4 separate regions of the Homo sapiens genome follow, and all the other regions are reported to be linked to region 3. Evidence: microRNA targets listed by miRTarBase, many of them from high-throughput screens and not tested one by one. Region 3 holds a microRNA gene; each other region holds the end of a gene's coding sequence.

What was found. The annotated mature microRNA hsa-miR-744-3p reads CUGUUGCCACUAACCUCAACCU and lies in region 3 at 1,004-1,025, opposite strand. An mRNA with a match to its seed (bases 2 to 7 or 8) in the 3' UTR can be bound and repressed. Matches are read on the target gene's strand: a 7mer-m8 pairs with bases 2 to 8, a 7mer-A1 pairs with bases 2 to 7 and ends in A, and an 8mer does both.
Region 1: the mRNA of LAYN is a reported target of hsa-miR-744-3p. Seed matches in the 3' UTR shown: 7mer-m8 at 1,131-1,137.
Region 2: the mRNA of TKFC is a reported target of hsa-miR-744-3p. Seed matches in the 3' UTR shown: 7mer-m8 at 2,047-2,053 and 8mer at 1,883-1,890.
Region 4: miRTarBase lists HYCC2 as a target of hsa-miR-744-3p. Seed matches in the 3' UTR shown: 7mer-m8 at 46-52.

What each region holds. Positions count from the first base shown.
Region 1 is chr11:111,560,206-111,563,327 of GRCh38, forward strand. LAYN (layilin) reads left to right here. Exons shown (of 7, transcript NM_178834.5): 7 at 1-1,540. The coding sequence ends at 253. Among named protein-coding and RNA genes, the nearest start is that of LAYN, 21 kb to the left of the region's middle. RefSeq lists a silencer at 1,799-2,093.
Region 2 is chr11:61,346,283-61,349,404 of GRCh38, reverse strand. It overlaps TKFC (triokinase and FMN cyclase), which reads right to left. Exons shown (of 18, transcript NM_015533.4): 18 at 163-3,054. The coding sequence ends at 2,902. It overlaps CYB561A3 (cytochrome b561 family member A3), which reads left to right. Exons shown (of 7, transcript NM_153611.6): 7 at 1-600. Among named protein-coding and RNA genes, the nearest start is that of CYB561A3, 14 kb to the left of the region's middle.
Region 3 is chr17:12,079,869-12,082,990 of GRCh38, reverse strand. It overlaps MIR744 (microRNA 744), which reads right to left and starts at 1,092; the gene lies at 995-1,092. It overlaps MAP2K4 (mitogen-activated protein kinase kinase 4), which reads right to left. Exons shown (of 11, transcript NM_003010.4): 3 at 1,461-1,635.
Region 4 is chr2:200,978,466-200,981,567 of GRCh38, forward strand. It overlaps HYCC2 (hyccin PI4KA lipid kinase complex subunit 2), which reads right to left. Exons shown (of 13, transcript NM_001321623.1): 13 at 1-3,102. The coding sequence ends at 2,805. All of the region lies in intron 1 of LOC105373835 (a long non-coding RNA gene), which reads left to right. Among named protein-coding and RNA genes, the nearest start is that of ORC2, 16 kb to the left of the region's middle.

The sequences.
Region 1 (3,122 bases), not on the chromosome of region 3:
CGAAGCTGACTTAGCTGAGACCCGGCCAGACCTGAAGAATATTTCATTCCGAGTGTGTTCGGGAGAAGCCACTCCCGATGACATGTCTTGTGACTATGACAACATGGCTGTGAACCCATCAGAAAGTGGGTTTGTGACTCTGGTGAGCGTGGAGAGTGGATTTGTGACCAATGACATTTATGAGTTCTCCCCAGACCAAATGGGGAGGAGTAAGGAGTCTGGATGGGTGGAAAATGAAATATATGGTTATTAGGACATATAAAAAACTGAAACTGACAACAATGGAAAAGAAATGATAAGCAAAATCCTCTTATTTTCTATAAGGAAAATACACAGAAGGTCTATGAACAAGCTTAGATCAGGTCCTGTGGATGAGCATGTGGTCCCCACGACCTCCTGTTGGACCCCCACGTTTTGGCTGTATCCTTTATCCCAGCCAGTCATCCAGCTCGACCTTATGAGAAGGTACCTTGCCCAGGTCTGGCACATAGTAGAGTCTCAATAAATGTCACTTGGTTGGTTGTATCTAACTTTTAAGGGACAGAGCTTTACCTGGCAGTGATAAAGATGGGCTGTGGAGCTTGGAAAACCACCTCTGTTTTCCTTGCTCTATACAGCAGCACATATTATCATACAGACAGAAAATCCAGAATCTTTTCAAAGCCCACATATGGTAGCACAGGCTGGCCTGTGCATCGGCAATTCTCATATCTGTTTTTTTCAAAGAATAATAAAATCAAATAAAGAGCAGGAAACAGAGTGTTAGTCTGTGTCTACAGCCCTTCCTCTGCATGTGGCCACAGGGGACCTTTTTTTGTTTCTCCTGACATCCAGACTTGGAAATATCTAACTACTTGCAAAACTAAAAATGAGGCCAGGCGCAGTGGCTGACGCCTGTAATCCCAGAACCTTGGGAGACCAAGATTGGAGGATAGCTTGAGTTCAGGAGTTCCAGACCTTCCTGGGCAAAATAGTGAGACTCTGACTCTACAAAAAATTTAAAAATTAGCAGGGCATGGTGGCATGCGCCTGCAGTCCCAGCTACTCAGGAGGCCGAGGTGGGGGAATTGCTTGAGCCCAGGAGGTTGAGGCTGCAGTGAGCTAGGATCACGCCACTGCTCTCCTGCGTGGGCAACAGAATGAGACCCTGTCTCTAAACAAAAATATTTTTTAAAGAAACTAAAAATGAAATTTGAGTCTCAGCTTCTAGGCTTATGTACTCCCATCCCTGATACTACACGTTGTTCTGTTTGCATGTTTGTTACTGCAGCATCAACATAACATGACTAATAATGATGACAGTTCTACCTTTTGTTGACAGACCTCATTGTTTCAATTGTGTTTGGCCTCAAATTCAGAGAAAAGTTTCTCAGCCCAGCATCAATCATATACACATTGGAGGTCTGAAAGCCATTATTTAAATCACCAGCAATTTCCCTCAATCAGCTTCATAATCTCATATTTTAACCTTTCCTCATATGTCTTATTTTTTAATAGCTCAGCAACTTTGCTTCACATATGGAGCCCCAACCTCTAGAGTTAACTAGTCTGGGTCAAAGCAGTATCGAATGTAGTGGATTGGAATCCCTGCCAAATTATCTGCCCTACTGCAGAACTGAATATACTAGGAAACAAAACTCCCTGTTTTGGGAAGTGTGTTTTGTGGTTACATTTCAAGCAAAAACTGAGCACATGGTCCTGAAGGACTGATTCACTGCTCTAAAATGCCCAAGGTTCCATTCTTGCTTCAGACAGCCTCGCTCTATCATCTGCCCTGTATCCTGCACTGTGCCCCACAACTCTGGCCCTTATTACACTGCAAGCTTCGCTAGTAGGAATCCTATCTGCCGGTCAGCATCATGGGTCCTGCAACCCATGGCAGCACCTTGCAGGGTAGGCAATCAATGTCTATTGAATGGATGAACAATGCATCTTTTCAGACTGATGTCAAATAGTTTGAATATTTCAGCTTAAAAGTTTGTTTTTCACAGTCCCCCTAGGTGGAGGAGGTAACTGAGTCATTGTAATTGGAATGCCTCCCAAGAAGGAAGCATAGTAACAAGTAAACAGATGCTGGTGAATTGTGCTAACAACTTACTTTATGTCACTCATGCTTGAACTGAGGACCCACTGTTAATCTATAAAGGGAGTAAGGTTGTAATCAGAACAGACCCTCAGCATCTTCCCTTCCCTTTTTTCATTAATGTGTTGTCTCTTCTGGGACCTAGAGATCTCTTCTGTGTTTGTACACAGCCAGTCTTACCCTGCATTTTAATTATTCACTTTCTTTTTCCTCCTCAGGTTTACTAGCCTGAGTTTACCCAACTCCATTTCTATCTCTAATAATTGCACTTCACTTATGTAACAAATATTTGCTAAATGTTAAGGGTTTGCTATGTTCCCGTTGAGCTTGAGCTTATTCATTAAGCTAGTATCATATGGAAATTTAGTAAGTTTGTTTCATAATTGCTATGATTTGAATGTTTGCCCCCTTCAAAACTCAGGTTGGCCAGGCATGTTGGCTCATGCCTGTAATCCCAGCACTTTGGGAGGCTGAGGCAGGAGGATTGCTTGAGCCCGGGAGTTCAAGACCAGGCTGGGCAACATAACGAGACCCCGTCTCTACAAAAAATAAGAAAATTAGCTGGGTGTGGTAGTGCATGCCTATAGTCCCAGCTATGCAGGAGCTGAGGTGAAAGGATTACTTGAGCCCAGAGGTCAAGGTTGCAGTGAGCTCTGATCATGCCACTGCACTCCAGCCGGAGTGACAAGTGACATCCTGTTTCAAAAACAAACCAACCAAGAAAAAAAGACAAAAAAAACCTCATGTAGAAACTTATTCCCCAATGTGGCAGTATTGACAGGTGGGGTCTTTAAGAGATGATTGGGTCATGAGGGCTTTGCCCTCATGGATTAATGGGTTTTCACAGGAGTAGGACTTGTGGCTTTATAAGAAGAGGAACAGAGACCTGAGCTAGCACCCTCAGGCCCCTCACCGTGTTACGCCCTGCGCTGCCTCAGGACTCTATAGAGAGTCTCCACCAGCAAAAAGACGCTCCCACATGCAGCCCCTCAACCTTGGACTTCTCGGCCTCCAGAACTATAAGAAATACATTTTGTTT
Region 2 (3,122 bases), not on the chromosome of region 3:
AGCCCCTCTGACCACTCTGCAGCTCACCATGCAGCTGATGCCAAAGTTGTGGTGTCCAGTGTGCAGCAGCCCTGGGAGCCACTGCCACCTTCAGAGGGGTTCCTTGCTGAGACCCACATTGCTTCACCTGGCCCCACCATGGCTGCTTGCCTGGCCCAACCTAGCGTTCTGTGCCATGCTAGAGCTTGAGCTGTTGCTCTTCTTCAGGGGAGGAAATAGGGTGGAGAGCGGGAAGGGTCTTGCTCCTAAGTGTTGCTGCTGTGGCTTTTTTGCCTTCTCCAAAGACGCACTGCCAGGTCCCAAGCTTCAGACTGCTGTGCTTAGTAAGCAAGTGAGAAGCCTGGGGTTTGGAGCCCACCTACTCTCTGGCAGCATCAGCATCCTACTCCTGGCAACATCAGGCCAACGTCCACCCCAGCCTCACATTGCCAGATGTTGGCAGAAGGGCTAATATTGACCGTCTTGACTGGCTGGAGCCTTCAAAGCCACTGGGATGTCCTCCAGGCACCTGGGTCCCATGACCAGCTCCCCATCTCCATAGGGGTAGGCATTTCACTGGTTTATGAAGCTCGAGTTTCATTAAATATGTTAAGAATCAAAGCTGTCTTTGTTCAGGCTGCTATAACAAAAATATAATAGCCTGGGTGGCTTAAACAACAAGTGTTTATTTCTCACAGTTCTGGAGGCTATAGACATCCAAGATGAAGGCGCTGGCAAATGTGGTGTGTGGCAAGGGCCAGCTTCCTCAGAGACCATCTTCTCACCATAACCTCACATGGTGGAAAGGGCGTGAGAGCTCTCTGGGGCTCCACCCTCATAACCCCATCACCTCCCAAAGGCCCCACGTCCTAACACTACCATAGTGGGGGTGAGCCTTTCAACACAGGAATTTGGGGGGGACACAAACATTCAGTCTCTAATAACAGCCCTCTAATGAAATGATGCTGTGGTTAAATGAGTTCTGGGCCAATTTGTAAAAGCCTCAGGACAGGTCTGACCCTCACAGACCTAGGGAGGGGCCAACCGGAAGGCACCAAAGATCCACATGATCCTCTGTCTTCATGGAATGGCATGTGTGGATTCACATGCAGCTCATTTATGTGCGTGTCCTTAATAGCTAATGGCACGTGCTTATCTCACGAGGAAGGAAATTTTTCCTATTTCATAATCTGAGAAAACAAGACTCAAAAAGGGTGACTAGGTTGAGGTCACCCAGCCAGGAAATGACAGAGCTGGGATCCACAGGCCACCGTCTGAGGTCAGCCTCCTTCCCAGCTGCTGGGCGCATACTCCTGTGCACGTGGATGCCTTGTGGTCAGGGACGTATGGTGCAGCCGACAGACAGGACCCTGGGTAGAGAAGCCCAGGCACTCGGGGAGCCTGCAGCCAAATTTGGGCCAAGTAGGTGACGGGGGTTGGGAGGGCAGGAGGCTCTTTCCTACCAGCTAGTGGTAGAGCAGATGACCTGGGAGGGGCTGGGGGCCCAACCCCTGTGATAACCGTAACTCTCAGTGAGTGAGCACTTGGACTGTGCTGGGCTTTATGGCCCATCTTCATCAATTCATTTGAATCCTTTCATGTCCCCATGAGGTGGGTACCATTCTGATTTTACAGATCCCAAAGGGCTAAAAAATAGGCCTTAGCTCCTGTAGCCGGGTTAAAGCAGAATCAGATTTCAGATCATGTGTATGAGTCGACAGCCAGTGCCTTTAACCACTCCCTACCCTACATGTGTGCCAGGCATGTGCTGTTTGTCTCCACATGCATACAGTGCCCCTGCTCACCCTGGTGCCATCAGTGATCGCTCTAGAAAGAGACCTAGGGGCTGGCTTGGCTGCAGTTTCTTTTTTTTTTTTTTTTTTTTTTGAGACAGGGTCTCGCTTTGTTGCCCAGGCTGGAGTATAGTGGCATGCTTATGGCTCACCGCAGCCTCGACCTCCTGGGCCCAAGCCATCCTCCCAACTCAGCCTCCCAAGTTAGGACTATAGGCACACACTACTATGCCTGGCTAATTTTGTATTTTTTGGTAGAGACAGGGTTTTACCATGTTGCCCAGACTGGTCTTGAACTCCTGAGTGTAAGGGATCCGCCTGCCTTGGCCTCCCAAAGTGCTGGGATTGCAGGTGTGAGCCACCGTGCCCGGCCTGGCTGCATTTTTTGATCTACAACTGAACCTTAGACTATGATGATTTCTTTTCCTTCTGGTGTCCCAAATGCCCATTCGACTCCCGAGGAGCCACTGAATTATTAATTCAATGCTAAGAAAAGCCCCTCTACCATTCTTACATGCATCAGGTGTGTGTACTGGAAAGGGGATGGGTCGGGGGTCTCAGTGGAAGCAGCCCAGCTGAGGAGACACTGCCTTAGGGGCTCAGGTAATAAAGATCTGCCTGGTAGAAGATGGGTCATGATGCCTGCAGCCAGGGCTGTGGGCCCCCTTGTTTACATGCTTGGGAAAAGGTCCCTCAGAGGAGGCAGTGTCTTTCTTGCTTCCATGTATTATAGTTTATTAACTTTCTTTTTCACGCTCACTGGGGTTAAGGTGCGGAAAGCATTTCACAGGGAGTCTTAAAACCAAATTAGGATTGCCAGGTAAAGGCTGCACAAGGAAAATGCCTTATCTCTGAAGCCCAGAGCTGGCAGGGGAGGGCATGACCCAGGGACTCCACCCTCCTGCAAAGGGAAAGGGCATGCTGGAGAGGCATGGGGACCCACTCCAGCTCACTCTGGGTGCTGTCTGTAGTTCTGGAAGCTTGGTGGAGGATTTCCTGCTCAACTTAGAGGGTGGGCCAATGGGGCCAGGCCGGGGGAAGGTGAGGGTTGGAAGGCAGAAGGAAGTGACAAAGGCCACCTCAGCACAGCAGTGAGAGGAGCTGAGGCCAAGGGAGGCAGTCACACACCCTAGCTCTGCAAGACCTCCAAGATGGCCCGGAGGATGGCAGCAGCTGCCACCGCCCCGGGGTCTGGCTGCTCCAGCCGTGCTGAGCTGATATAACTGGCTCTTCCGGCTCCAGCTTCCATATTCTTGGTGGCCTCGGCTGCAGCTTCGGCACTCTGGGGGATGGGGTGTGGGAGCAGGTTCAAGGGCAGATCACCAGGCCGCCTCCTTCCTGCCATGGGCA
Region 3 (3,122 bases):
CAGGTAGCACAAAGGGACAACACAACATTCATCCAGGAGTCTAAATAAAATGACTCTTTCCACTTACACTGCAGTGGCACAAAATAGGAATACAGAAATCATTTCACATTCCAATAAAACATTTTATTTTAACACATAATGCAGAGTTCTTCACCTGTGCATCTTTAGAGGTCTACGGTTTGTATACAAAATGTTGTGTATATACACCTGCCTATGAAAAGTCTATAGTTCTCACCACATTTTAAAAATACAGCCAAAAACAATGTTAGGAACCCATAGAGAGAATCATAAAAATTTTCCCTACCACTAATTTAACATTACTTTCATATGACCCAGCAAAAAGAAATGCTCAACAGTGAAGGATACTAAAATAGTTACAGTAAGGTTTGGCTCACAACAGACTTCTACACAGAAAGCATTTTATTTTAATTTAAATTCATTCTCAAATGTCAAGAAAAAACTAAGGACTCTTATCAACCACTCTGACAAACTCTCAAAATAGGACACTAATAGGAAGATGATTAGCTTGGACTATATGCAAATCCATTCTGAATTCTTGTAAACTGAAACATTTTTGTTCCCATAGGAATTTTAAGCTCAGAGAGGGTATGGCCACAGCTAGCTTTTTTTCCTTTGTTTTTGCAAGTTGTTCCCCCTGTTGCTGATTTTCCTGAAATATCTTACATACAGCAAAGATTTGTTAAACATCTAAACAAACAAATGAATAAATTACAATTACATGAAACTAGGAGTCAGATGGAAACCACCAGTTCTTTACAGGTACCAGCATAAGCTTGCCAGGTATTGTCTATGGATCAAATCTCTGTTTCTGGCCATTTTTTTTTTTTAATGAACATATTAAGTGGCACGACACAATAAGGACAAAATGTGACAACATTATCACAAGGTATGCATTTCAGTACAACTTTAAAACCAGGGAACAGGGCAGTACTGAGTAGAGATGAAATAAACAAACAGAAGCCGAGCCGGTCAGGACCGAGTAAGGTTGAGGTTAGTGGCAACAGCATGTGCGTGGTTTCCAGGAAACCTTCAGTAAGACTGCTGTTAGCCCTAGCCCCGCACCTTGCCCAACCCAGTGTGCTGCGTCTTCTTCCAGCTCCCGCCTGGCTCAGTGCAGCACTGCCCTGCTCCCAGGGGTGCAGCCGCCCAGCCTGAACTCACCTTGGCAGTAGAAGGGCCTGAAGTTTAAAACATGTTAATGCATCATGCCAAAAATGCAATCAACATGCACACTTCATACACTCATGTTTCCAAAGAGATAGAAAATGTGCCACCAATAAGAAACCTCTACACAGAACACCCTCAAAGGAGTTGGAGAAACAATTTTTTAAACACCCACATTTACCACAAAAGTAGGAACACAACAACAGTGGTATTACTGCACCATGAAATTTCACCTAATGGATTAAAGTACCAAAAATAATCATGGCATCACCTACTTTAACTGCCATTATTTGCCCACTTGGTTTGTGGACCATTTTGTTGACAGAACCATAAGCTCCTCGTCCAATTTCTCCAAGGTCTTTCAAGTCCTCTGCAGTGAAATCCCAGTGTTGTTCAGGGGAGATCTTCAGTTTTCCTGATGACTCAATGCTGTGTGTTCTCAGTCTCTCTCTGTTAAAATATTGGGAAGCAATTTTTCCACATTTTAAATAGGTTTTAACTTTTTTCTTTTAGTACTGATTAATGTGTGGGAAAAATGTTTTCTAAATTACTAAAATAGTCTGACCTCCAGGTTTTTGAAGTTTTTCATTTGTGTCATCCTGGTTTTTTACACACTGGATTAAGAATGATCTAGATTTAGGTAGTCAATAGACACAGCTTCAACGGGATTCATAAAAACAAATTGCCAAGAAGATTTTTAAAAATTCCCATTTATTGATTAAACTAATTCTGCAGATCAGTTTTCATTTCTAAATATAAGATCTTATTCAAACTTGGATGATGGTTTATCCAAACAGCATTATCAAGTGAGAATCCCAAGAGCTGCAAACCTTATTGCGAAAAAGTTCTTACCCTATCTTACCCAACATTAGTTATTCCAGTGCCTCAATCTTCAGTTAGTACAACTATTCCCAAGGTTTGCTGTACCTTACAATCACCTGGGGGAGATTTTAAAAATCTCAATGCCCAGGTATCGTCCCATAGCAATTACATCTGAATTATCCAGGGACAGGAGTCAGAAAACAGTATTTTTAAAGACCCCCAGATGATTCCAGTAATGTTTGGGAACTAGTGCCTTAGTATACTGTCCTGTTCTTGTTAATACCATCCTGAGGTGGGAGAACAGTTAACTGAATAGCTAGCTGGCTCTAAGAGGAAAATTGCCATGTGCTATTCAAAATTGAAATTTTCAGCCCTCGTTCGATAAAGCAATGGGATAAAAAATGAGTGGCTCGTAGACAAAAGAGCTCACTCATTACATATTTCCATTAAATAAAAAATCATCTCCAAAATCTCAACCTGGAGATCAAAGTATTAATAACTTCTAACCATGCTTTGTAAAAAAGTAAATCCAATGAAAAATGTAAAATCAATCTGTTTCTCTCTCTTGCTCTCTCTCACACACACACCAAACCCCAATGTGTAGGAACAAACTATCAACCATACACACAATGAAAGAATTCATTAAATATCAACTACATTTTTCAGTTTCATACTAAATGATCAGGATCTCTTTTAAACTCTGATCCTATGATGCAAACAAGCAAAGTTTATGTGCTTGGTCATTATTTTTCTTCTTCCAAAATTTAGGAAAGTTTTCTCCAATTAGTAGAATGGTTTTCTGTAGCAACCTTTAAGGTTCCCAAAAAACTTAGAACTTTAAAATCTACCCCCACTCTGAGAATAATCGTATGTACTAATATTAAGGTTCAAAGTTACACTTCAAAGATTCATACACTTGGTCTAAATAACAATTTACTAAATCAGTGTTCCAAATAACAGACTTTCAAATCATACTAAGTGATAAGCTTTCATTCATACAAGTGCTTTTCAGTTCAAAGTCCTTTCACCCATATTATTTGATACTCTAGCATCCAGAATCACAAGAAGCCCGGAAATCAGTGGCATAAGTGACCATTTAGGTGAAGATGAAGCTG
Region 4 (3,102 bases), not on the chromosome of region 3:
TTTTTTTTTTTTTTTTTTTTTTTTTTCAGAGATGGAGTCTTGCACTGTTGCCTAGGCTGGAGTACAGTAGTGCATTCTTGGCTCACTGCAACCTCCACCTCCCAGGTTCAAGAGATTCTCCTGCCTCAGCCTCCCGAGTAGCTGGGATTACAGGCGCCTGCCACCACGCCCAGCTAATTTTTTGTATTTTTAGTAGAGACAGGGTTTCACCATGTTGGCCAGGCTGGTCTCGAACTCCTGACCTCATGATTCACCCACCTCAGCCTCCCAGAGTGTTGGGATTACAGGCGTGAGCCACCGTGCCCGGCCAAGATGAACATTTTTTAAAACCAATTTTTCAGGTATAACATAAGATTTCTAGCCAAAGGAAAATTTTGTTGTATTAATTCTAACATTTGCTGTGATTTGGTATTATGTGGTATTTCTTTTGTGCTCTAACCAAAATCATGCTAGATTTAGATGCCAATAAATGCACAATTTGAATTGAAAACAGTCTTTTTACCTCCCAAATAATTTATGCCATAAAGTGACTGACCTCCAGCCATAGCCAAGATCTCACTTTCTTTTTTATTTTTTATTTATTTTTAATTTTTTTTTAGATCTCACTTTCTAGGTAAGTATAATGTTCCTTTCCTTACATACCTGAAACTGCCTGTTTTAGTATGTTATGGGCCTTTATAGCTCATTTATTTTGGCTATTTTTAAACTCCTTTCATTTATTTGACATCCCTTAAATTAAAAGAAAGGGTATTTAAAATATTTAAAATACAACTTTGTGATATATACATATACACACCATACACACACACACACACACACACACACACACACAGACACACACAAAACAATAAATTGTCTACTTATCAACTTTTAGCTTTACCCTGGACTTTGGCAATGTTGTAGATACTAGTTCAGGTTCTAGTTTTCCATTTTCACATGAGCTGGAAAAATGTTACAGACCACCATATTTAAACAAGCATCTCATATATAAAGAGTCTAACAGAAAGTCTCTTAGGGAAAAAAGAAAGTCCTTACAATAAAAACGGGAGGATTGCTAGGTGTGAAAAAAAAAAAGGCGTTTTTTCTGGTTATTTATCAAAATCTATTGTAATTTTAATGGTAGAGATAAAATTTTAACTTTTGCTAATTAGGAGAATACTTGCTTTCTATAAATTCAGTATATTTTTCTTAAACAATAATCAAGTAAAAACATCTAAATGTACAAAGCACTGATAGCTCTGATGTATTCTGTGGAAGGATAACTTATAACAGTTTAAGTCACAATACACTTTTTTAAAACCCAATATATTCCCTTCTTTTTCAAACATCAGAGCCTGAGACCCAGAAAAGTTATGATAAAATCTTATCCAACCAGATCAGAACTAAGGAAATTTTTTTTACCAATAATGTTTTTGTAACCTCTTAGCAGTTACCAAATGCTACTTACATACATTCAACATCTAGCTTACTGGCATGATATCAAAGTTTTATAAAAATGAGGAACTGCAGATATATGATTAGAAGGTACACAAATTGCATTACATTAAACACAAAGGCAGTGTGGTCCTTGTAGGAGAAATCAAGGTCAGTACCCCCTGGTAGAAATGTTCTATAAAAATGTGTCACATTGAAGTATCAGTGTTTCAGCCAATTGTCTGTCCCTGATATATTTCCTTGGAGTATGTAATGTATCAGGACTTTAGGTTTCTTAATCCAAAATGTCTGACTGAATTTAGGTACATCTAGAAAGCAGCTGAAAGGGTTTCTCTTATAGTCTGACATAACAGAAAGTAGATTGAGAAATCCCTCTCTTTACCTGAAGATGTACTGTTACACTTCAGCCATCAGCTCACAAAGGAAAAGAAGAAAAAAAAATCAAATCTCCTCTCACACACACAATCTCCACAAAAGCTAAACAAAAACTACCCCCCGCCCCCACAAAACCCCAGCACCAAAGTGTCAATCATTCCTGGGAAATAGAACATGCCCCTCAGATTCTGATTTGTTAGTTGGCCAAACTTGAAGGACAGAAATGACCTTATATGTCCTTGTGGGGAAGAGGGAAGACACGTTAATAATGACTATACAGCCATTGAGAAAGTGCATTATCAATTACACAATCAAGAGTCCTGCCCTCCAATGGAGGTGGTCACAACTTGATTTAAATGCCTCCGTAATTGAACATTTATGTCTTCGGGATAAAGGAGATGGGGGGGTGGAGAAAGAGCTACCCTCATTTTAATGAAAAAGTGCAGCAGTCTACCACCTTTCCCCATGCTTCTCCAGAAAATGATTGCACAGACTCAGAGAAGTCCAAAGTCATAGCAGAATCTCTGAGGCACTCCTGGTTAAGAGAAAAAAATATGATCCAGTAATCTTCATAGTTCTATAGATTATGAGAACAAACCCGTTTTGTTTTTAAACAAAAGCCAAAGAATCGTTTCATAGGGATCATATACACCATTTCCTCTAATGTACCCTCAGTCTCACAGTGTTGAAATGGGACCGATCAGCCTACGATGGATTGCACATCACCCAAGGAGAAAGGAAGGCATGGAAAAGGCAACCATTTTATACTGCTTCACAAACACATTTACAAGGGATAGGTGAAGAGAAGATGTAGGAAAGAGGGATAAAGAAAACCTTATTGCTGTTTTGATACAAAATACAGTATGAAGATACCTAAACTAAATGAAATCTGATAACAGTGACCAATATTTTCACAATGTGGGATGAAGTGTCTTCTTGCACAATGAAATGTTCAGTTTAAAAGGTAAGCAGAAAGATGAGGGAGGATGTCAAAACTACACCTGGGATATTAGCTGCATATTGAAACTTGGGGATCGAGACTGCTTGGTCAAGGGGGCTCCTGGGCTGAGGAGCTCTTTACCTTCGCCAGCTTGACCTAGCCGGTCTTCCTGCAGACTGACAGTTGAGTATCGATTAGCATTGTTGGCTGCTAAATTAGTACCTCCCTCAGTGCCAACCCCAATGCTGGTACTTGCTTGACTGCCATTTACATAGTCAAATGATTTACTTGAGGAAGCACTGGCTGTCCGGATTAGACTTAAGCTATTGATTTTTGGCACCACCTGGCCAGCA